Homo sapiens: one gene and its partner. The protein of the gene in region 1 purifies or fractionates together with the protein of each later gene. This does not show direct contact. Each region holds a gene or a part of one and is shown on either strand. Other genes may lie near its edges.

Region 1 (3,824 bases):
CATATGACATTATTCAGACAAAGCTTCCATGGAGAATAAAATGTTATATAATTTTCACTTCCACTTTCCAGAAGAAATCCCTTTCTTCCCGTTTTCTCTGTGATCCCTTCCAGATCTATGGTGCACTTGCATACTGACTGGCCACTTTAGATCATGTAGTTAAGAACAGCCTTATCTTTTCAAGGGAGACTGCGTAGGGTATTGGGTGAGAGTGTGGGCTCTGATCCCAGTTTCTTGAGTTCACATCTTACTATCTTCCAGTCTGTGACCTTGGGCATGTTACTTAACCGTTCTGTTTCCACCTGTTTAAAATGTAGATAATAATAGTCATTATATCACAAGGATATGAATGTGTGTGTGTGTGTTTTATCTTAGAAAAGAACCTGTATATGATAAGTGTTCAATAAATGTTAGGTATGATTATTCAACAAATGGTATTCAGTGCTGGACCCAGGCAATACACTGATTACACCATGAGCAAGATTTGATCCCTGCCCTTTTTTCTCAGAATATGTTTCCTGGTGCTCAGGTCATATTGAAATTTGCTATGTTAATTTGGGTTTGACATTTTTTATTTCATTTTGTAGTTGAAGTCAAGTGATTTTGCTGTTCTGAAGCAGTTGTTGCCTCTGTTGGAGAAGGTATCCAACACATACCCTGATCCGGTCATCCAAGAACTCGCTGTTGATCTCCGCATCACCATCTCTACCCATGGAGCCTTTGCCACTGAGGCCGTCAGCATGGCTGCCCAAAGTACACTGAACAGAAAAGATCTGGAAGGGAAAATAGAAGAGCAGCAACAAACCAGTCATGAAAGACCCACTGATGTAGCTCATAGCCACCTTGAACAACAGCAGAGCCATGAGACAGCCCCCCAGACAGGCCTGCAGTCAAATGCTCCAATCATTCCTCAAGGAGTCAATGAGCCCAGCACTACTACAAGTCAGAAATCTGGAAGCGTAACCACAGAACAGCTCCAAGAGGTTCTTTTGTCAGCTTATGACCCTCAAATTCCAACACGGGCTGCTGCCCTGCGTACTCTTTCCCACTGGATAGAGCAGAGAGAAGCAAAAGCCCTTGAGATGCAAGAGAAGCTTCTCAAGGTGAGTAGAACACACTGTAAAGACACATGGGCACAGGGTGGGGCATTCATTCAACTCAAGTATTTTTGGAGCCTGGACTATGTGTCAAGTGCTGTTCTGGACCACCCTCCAGAAATTTGTGAATTTTGTGAGGAGGCAACACTTAGACACAGGAAAGATTTATTTAGACACAGGAAAGACTTAAACTCCTCAAATGAATATGAACTGAGTGCCAATTTTTTTTTTTTTTTTTTTTTTTTGAGATGGAATCTCGCTCTGTCCCCCAGGCTGGAGTGCAGTGGTGCAATCTCGGCTCACTGCAAGCTCCGCCTTCTGGGTTCACACCATTCTCCTGCCTCAGCCTCCCGAGTAGCTGGGACTACAGGTGTCTGCCACCACCCCCGGCTAATTTTTTGTATTTTTAGTAGAGACGGGCACCATGTTAGCCAGGATGGTCTCGATCTCCTGACCTCGTGATCCACCTGCCTCGGCCTCCCAAAGTGCTGGGATTACAGGCGTGAGCCACCACACCCATCCTTCAAAATTTTTGCATGCAAGAAATGCTGTGGGCAGTCAGGAAAAAGAGAAAGTTGAAATCTTCTGGAGGATGTAGGCCTTAATATGGCCATAACAAACTAGTAAAGTTTGAGCAGATGAAAGAGGGGTGGGATAGCTTGAACAAATTCCCAGAGATGGGAAAGTACCTTTTGTGATAAATAGGTCTGCTTCAACACTGTGACCCAGCCCAGATAAGCCACCTGTTTTCTCTGGGCATCTTTAGTGGGGCGTTGGGCAAAACTGGGTCTCCTCCCCTCTTCTCTCCCTTCATCGTGGTGAAATAGCTGTTTTTTGTTTTGTTTTGTTTTGTTTTTTTGAGACAGGGTCTCGCTCCGTCGCCCAGGCTGGAGTGCAGTGGTGCGATCTCAGCTCACTGCAATTTCCACCTCCTGGGTTCAAGTGATTCTTCTGCCTCAGCCTCCCAAGTAGCTGGGATTACAGGTGCCCACCAACACACCCAGCTAATTTTTGTACGTTTAGTTGAGATGAGGTTTCACCATGTTAGCCAAGCTGGTGTTGAACTCCTCACATCAAGTGATTCACCTGCCTCGGCCTCCCAAAGTGCTGGGATTACAGGCATGAGCCACCGCGCCTGGCCTTAAATATCCTTTTATACACCTATTTGAAGGTGAATTCAATGAACATCTTGGAATTTTTTTTAGCTTAATTAAACCTTCTTCTGCTGTACATAATTGGTCACCAAGTCCTGTCAATTCTTTTTTCAAAGAAGTCTTTCAAATGTATCTTATCCTCTTTATTTCCATGGCCATTACCCTAAATTAAGCTTCCCTTGCTTACTCCATAAAAGATTCCCTACCTTCAAAACTGGCCGTCTTCCTAACTGGGGTAATTTTAGGCTCTCCGTACATACTTCACATGTAGAGACCAGCAGCATCAAGTTGATGTCAAGAATTACTGTGCCAACGAAGAACACAGCATTATATATGGAGCAGACACTTCCGTCTTCCTTTCTCTGGCTCTCATGTTGGGGCCTAAACCTAACATATCATGTAATATCTTCCAGATAAGCTGTACTCACTGTAGTTGATACCCCTGATAGGTTCCTAAATTGTAAGATATTTTGAGAGTAATTTGTTACTAATATCAATTAAAGTGCTGAAATTTACAAGATTTTCAAAAATAAATTAGAACAGATTCAAAGTTATCTCAATAATAACATCTCTATCTCACTTGCACTTCCATATGCTTTGTGAGTACAAGAGAAAAGGATCAAATTGCAGCAAATGTGCCATCCATTGCACATAACCCCAAACCTTGTCTCTTGTGTGTCACACCCCGTAGTCTGTCATGCCATATGTGAGAATGTTATTCACCATGGCTGTCATGGAAAAATGTTGAGGATTGTTCTTCCATCGGTTTCCAGGACTACTGCTGGAAGAATACAAGTATCTCCCCCAGTCTCTATACTTTTTTAATGGTTATAAAAATGAGACTTAAGCATATATGCCATTTCCCCCACAAAACTCTGTCAGACCAGTTTCTACCCAAGAAAAACAAGAAGCGAAGCATTTACTCCTTTGAGCTGCTGATAAGGGAGCCTCTTAAATCTTCCTTGTTCTTTGTAAATCTTATCACTGCTGTATTTTGTGGTTCCAGATATTCTTGGAAAACTTGGAACATGAAGACACTTTTGTATATCTATCTGCAATTCAGGGTAAGTCAGTCCTGGTTAAAGGACTTTAAGTATGTGGACCAGAGACTGTATCATGTTTATTTGCACAAAATCTCTAAAGTCCTAGGGCCAGGAGACTACTGGTCATTTTGTCCGTCTTCCTGCCTCCTAGCTAGGACACTTTAAGTCATAATAATAATATTCCTGAAGGGTTTCCAAAGAGTCCCTATAGAGTTTCAGTGTCTCATAATGATGAGGAAGTTTTTATTAATGTTTACATATTCTGTAGATTAAATCGTATTTCCTCTAATTCAAGGAGGTAAAGAATGACTCACACATGAACTCTTATCACATTAACCTTTTATGTTAGTCGGCTACTGTCTTTTTTTTTTTTTTTTTTGAGACAGAGTCTCGCTCTGTCACCCAGGCTGGAGTGCGGTGGTGTGATCTCAGCTCACTGCAACCTCTGCCTCCCGGGTTCAAGTGATTCTCCTGCCTCAGCCTCCCAAGTAGCTGGGATTACAGGTGCCCGCCACCACGCCCAGCTAATT
Region 2 (3,824 bases), on another chromosome or scaffold:
AGCGATTCTCCAGCCTCACCCTCCCGAGTAGCTGGGATTACAGGCATGTGCCACCATGCCCGGCTAATTTTGTATTTTTAGTAGAGACGGGGTTTCTCCATGTTGGTCAGGCTGGTCTGGAACTCCCGACCTCAGGTGATCCACCCGCCTTGGCCTCCCAAAGTGCTAGGATTAGAGGCGTGGGCCAACGCACCCGGCCTTGTGTGCTCACTTTTATCTGGTCTTTCGAAAGCATTCAGTGTGGTGTTTTAGAAATAACTACTAGAGAGTCTATGTAGTACAGTAGTTAAGTACTTGAGCTCTGGAGCCAAATTGCTTTGCCACTTATTAGTTGTATAGGCCATAGACAAGTTACTCAGTTTTTGCCTTTGTAAAACAGGCATAATGGTAGTATCCATTTCTAGGTTTCTTGTGAATATTATAGGAGTTAATTCATGTAAAGCATTTAGAACAGTGCCTGGCAGGTAGTAAGTACTCAGTGTTAATTGCTGCTGTCATTTTTCTCTTCTCATTTATACTTCATTGCTTTACATAGTATTTACGTACTTTCAGTAATAAGCACAACTGGCATAAATAGGTTTGTGAATAAACACACTGTCACCATTGATAAGCACACTTCACAGAGGGGGAACCAGAAGTGTTGTTCCCATCACATTGGAGAATAGCCTAATGGTGTGATGTCAGTTAAATTGGATAAGAGAGTTCTGTGGGATAGTTTGCTAAGAGTATAAGGCAACAGTTCACAGAAGAAAGTAATGGATTAAAATTGAAAAGGAATCCAGGACCATATTTGTCAAATACCTTGAAGGTCAAGGTGACAAGTTTGTACTTAGATTGGTAGGAAGTGGAATTTTTTATTCTAAATGGCATGATTGATGTAAAAAAGTTCAAATGGCTTAGGAGTGTATGAAGTAAAAAGTTACATTTCCCTAGCTCCATTCCATGTCAGTAGCCACTTCATTTTCTAATGGCCCCTAGAACATGAGGTTGTTGTGAAGGCATGGTAAACACCACTTGGGGCACTGGTATTAATCTGTTAAAATTTTCAATTCAGCTTTCCTTTGGATTATAATCTCAATTTTGAATTGAGAAAAATAAAGTTTCCATACTAAATGTGAATAAAATGAAATGACTGTTTTGAAAGTAGATACCATACTCATAAGAGTCTTTGATTCCTAAGTCTTTCTCTACCTCTTTTGTCCAACTTGGAAGTCTTGGTAGAGAAGGACTTAGGAATCAGAGACTCATCTCTACTGTTAATTCCTTTTTGCACCTTTCCCACCAGAAGTGCTACAAGAGAGAAAGATGATATAATAATCACTAGAAAAGCAAAGTGTTCGGCCAGGTGTGGTGGCTCCCGCCTGTAATCCCAGCTCAGGCAGATCACCTGAGGTCAGGAGTTCGAGACCAGCCTGGCCAACATGGTGAAACCCCGTGTCTGCTGAAAATACAAAAATTAGTCAGGCATGGTGGCGGGCACCTGTAGTCCCAGCTACTCAGGAGACGGAGGCACGAGAATTGCTTGAGCTCCGGAGAGGCGGAGGTTGCAGTGAGCTGAGGTCACGCCACTGTGCGCCAACCTGGGCGACAGAGTGAGACTCCATCTCAAAAAAAAAAAAAAAGAAATAAAGAAAGCAAAGTGTTTACAGTGACAAGTTGATTTCAACTAGCAGTTGTCAGTTAAGTTAGTAACAGGGCATCACCCAAATAACTGCATTTTAAAGTGGACAGGGCAGGCCTGACTGGGGAAAAGGGAGGGAAGGGGTAGGGGGTTCCTGATGCCTGTACTCCCACATGCAGCTCTTAAATCCATTTTAAAAACTTAAAAGTTTTCTGTAGTTTTGTGACTTAAGTATAACAAGTCATCAAAAGTCTGATACTTAATACATTACAATGAACAGTTTATGCCAAAAGAAATCTTATAGTAGGGCCTGGGAAGGAAATGCTTTTGAAGTTCCATTGCTTTGAGTAATATCATTTTATGATTTAGGTAACATCCCCAAGCAGAGGAGGGGCCCATCCTTAGGAATGCAAAGCCCTGCAGAGAAGGAAAGGGTTGAGAAGGGTCCACCCTACCTCTTTTCCTTTACACAATGGCCCTAGGCTTTTGTATACAACCTGCTTTTGTAGGCTTAGGACATTATGAAATACAGCATGGTAAGATGGAAGCCTGAATCTCAAAAGTAAATATGAGAAATGATTTGGAGGGAACATATAAAGAGAGCAAAATTCTAGCAACAGGTGACATATTTCCCTAGATAGAAGAGTTATTGTAGAACTATGATGAGTGTTTATATAATTTTGAAGCAGTTTACAGCATCTAGAATGTAGTCATTTAATTTATGAAATGAAAGGGAAATGGTGTAACTCATACACCCGCATCCTCTCTCCTACCTTTTCTGATGGCTTTTTATGAGTTCTCACACAACCCCTATGCATAATCTATACCTTAGTACATTTTACATTATTTTTAAATTATTTACATGTGTCCCTCTTTCACCAGAATGGGTTTCTTATGGTTAGAGTTTCATCATGGTACCTTCATTCGATAGGTATGCAATAAATAGTGAAAGAATAGTCTGAGTTCCTTGAAATTGCATAGCAAATGAGACCTAAGAGCCAGATCTAGAATGCAGATGTAGAACCTCTTTCAGTTCCTAGCCCAGTACTTTTACTGCCACACCATACAGCCTCTATCTGAGATATTGAACAATTTTTTTCTTTTTTCTTTTATTTTTTCTTGAAACAGGATCTTGCTTTGTTGCCCAGGCTGGAGTGCAGGAGCACAATCTCAGCTCACTGCAACCTCTGTCTCCCAGGCTCAAGCAATCTTCCCATCTCAGCCTTTCGAGTAGCCGGGACTACAGGCATGCACCACCACGCCCAGCTAATTTTTTGTATTTTTGATAGAGTCGGGGCTTTGCCATGTTGCCCAGGCTGGTCTCAAACTCCTGAGCTTAAGCAGTCTGCCCACCTTGGCCTCTTAGAGTGCTGGGATTACAGGCATGAGCCACCATGTCCAGCCTCATTTGCATTCTTGTACTGCATTTTCATTAAATCATTCAAGTTCCTTTTATCTTGTGTAACATATTTAATTGCATTTTCCTACTGAATAAAAAAAAGGGAACAGTTCAAATGTTTTCTAGTTTCTGTCTTATGCCATATTAATTTCCAATATTACTCATAGGCAAACCAACAACATTATTATCCAAACAGTTTAAATGCTATGTAATATAACTAAAGCAAAGTTTAGACAAGGAGGACCATTGTCTACATTTGATTATAACAATAAAGCAGTTAAAGCAATGCTTTGCCAATGTATATTTGTCTGACTAGCTAGTTTTGTTTAAATCAAACTGTGAAAGGCTGTATACTTCAAGAAACATGAAAGTGAGCCTTATGTGTGACTTAGTTCCTTTCAGAGATTAATTTTGTCATCTAATGAGCAAGCAAGCTATTATATTTCATATTTACTGTACCTTAAAATTGGAAAGTATTTAACATATTTTATTTGACCCTTACAATACTATGAGATTGGCAGCGTAGGTATTTTAATATCTGTTTTGCAAATTTTGCAAATTTTGGTGATTTGCCTAATGTCACATGGCTAGTATATGGCAAATGTGGGTCCAGAGCTCAGAGCCTTTGATGCCTCGTGCTGCATGCTTTCTCCACTCTAAGATACTATCTAGAAAACACTGAAATTGTCACATAAATCATACTAAAGCACAGTTAGCGGACTGGAAGTGCGTCAAGGCTACAAAAGGATCCTGTAAGAGGAGCATGAAAGGGTGCATCATGTGATTACATTATTCCAGGATGTG

Evidence for each region.
Region 2: the proteins of TANGO6 (region 1) and SLC31A1 purify together in Homo sapiens (co-immunoprecipitation; one large-scale study listed by IntAct). This does not show direct contact.

Annotation. Positions count from the first base shown.
Region 1 is NC_000016.10:68,926,981-68,930,804, forward strand, and holds part of TANGO6 (transport and Golgi organization protein 6 homolog), read left to right. Parts: intron 1-587; coding exon 588-1,103; intron 1,104-3,257; coding exon 3,258-3,315; intron 3,316-3,824.
Region 2 is NC_000009.12:113,224,529-113,228,352, forward strand, and holds part of SLC31A1 (high affinity copper uptake protein 1), read left to right. Parts: intron 1-3,824.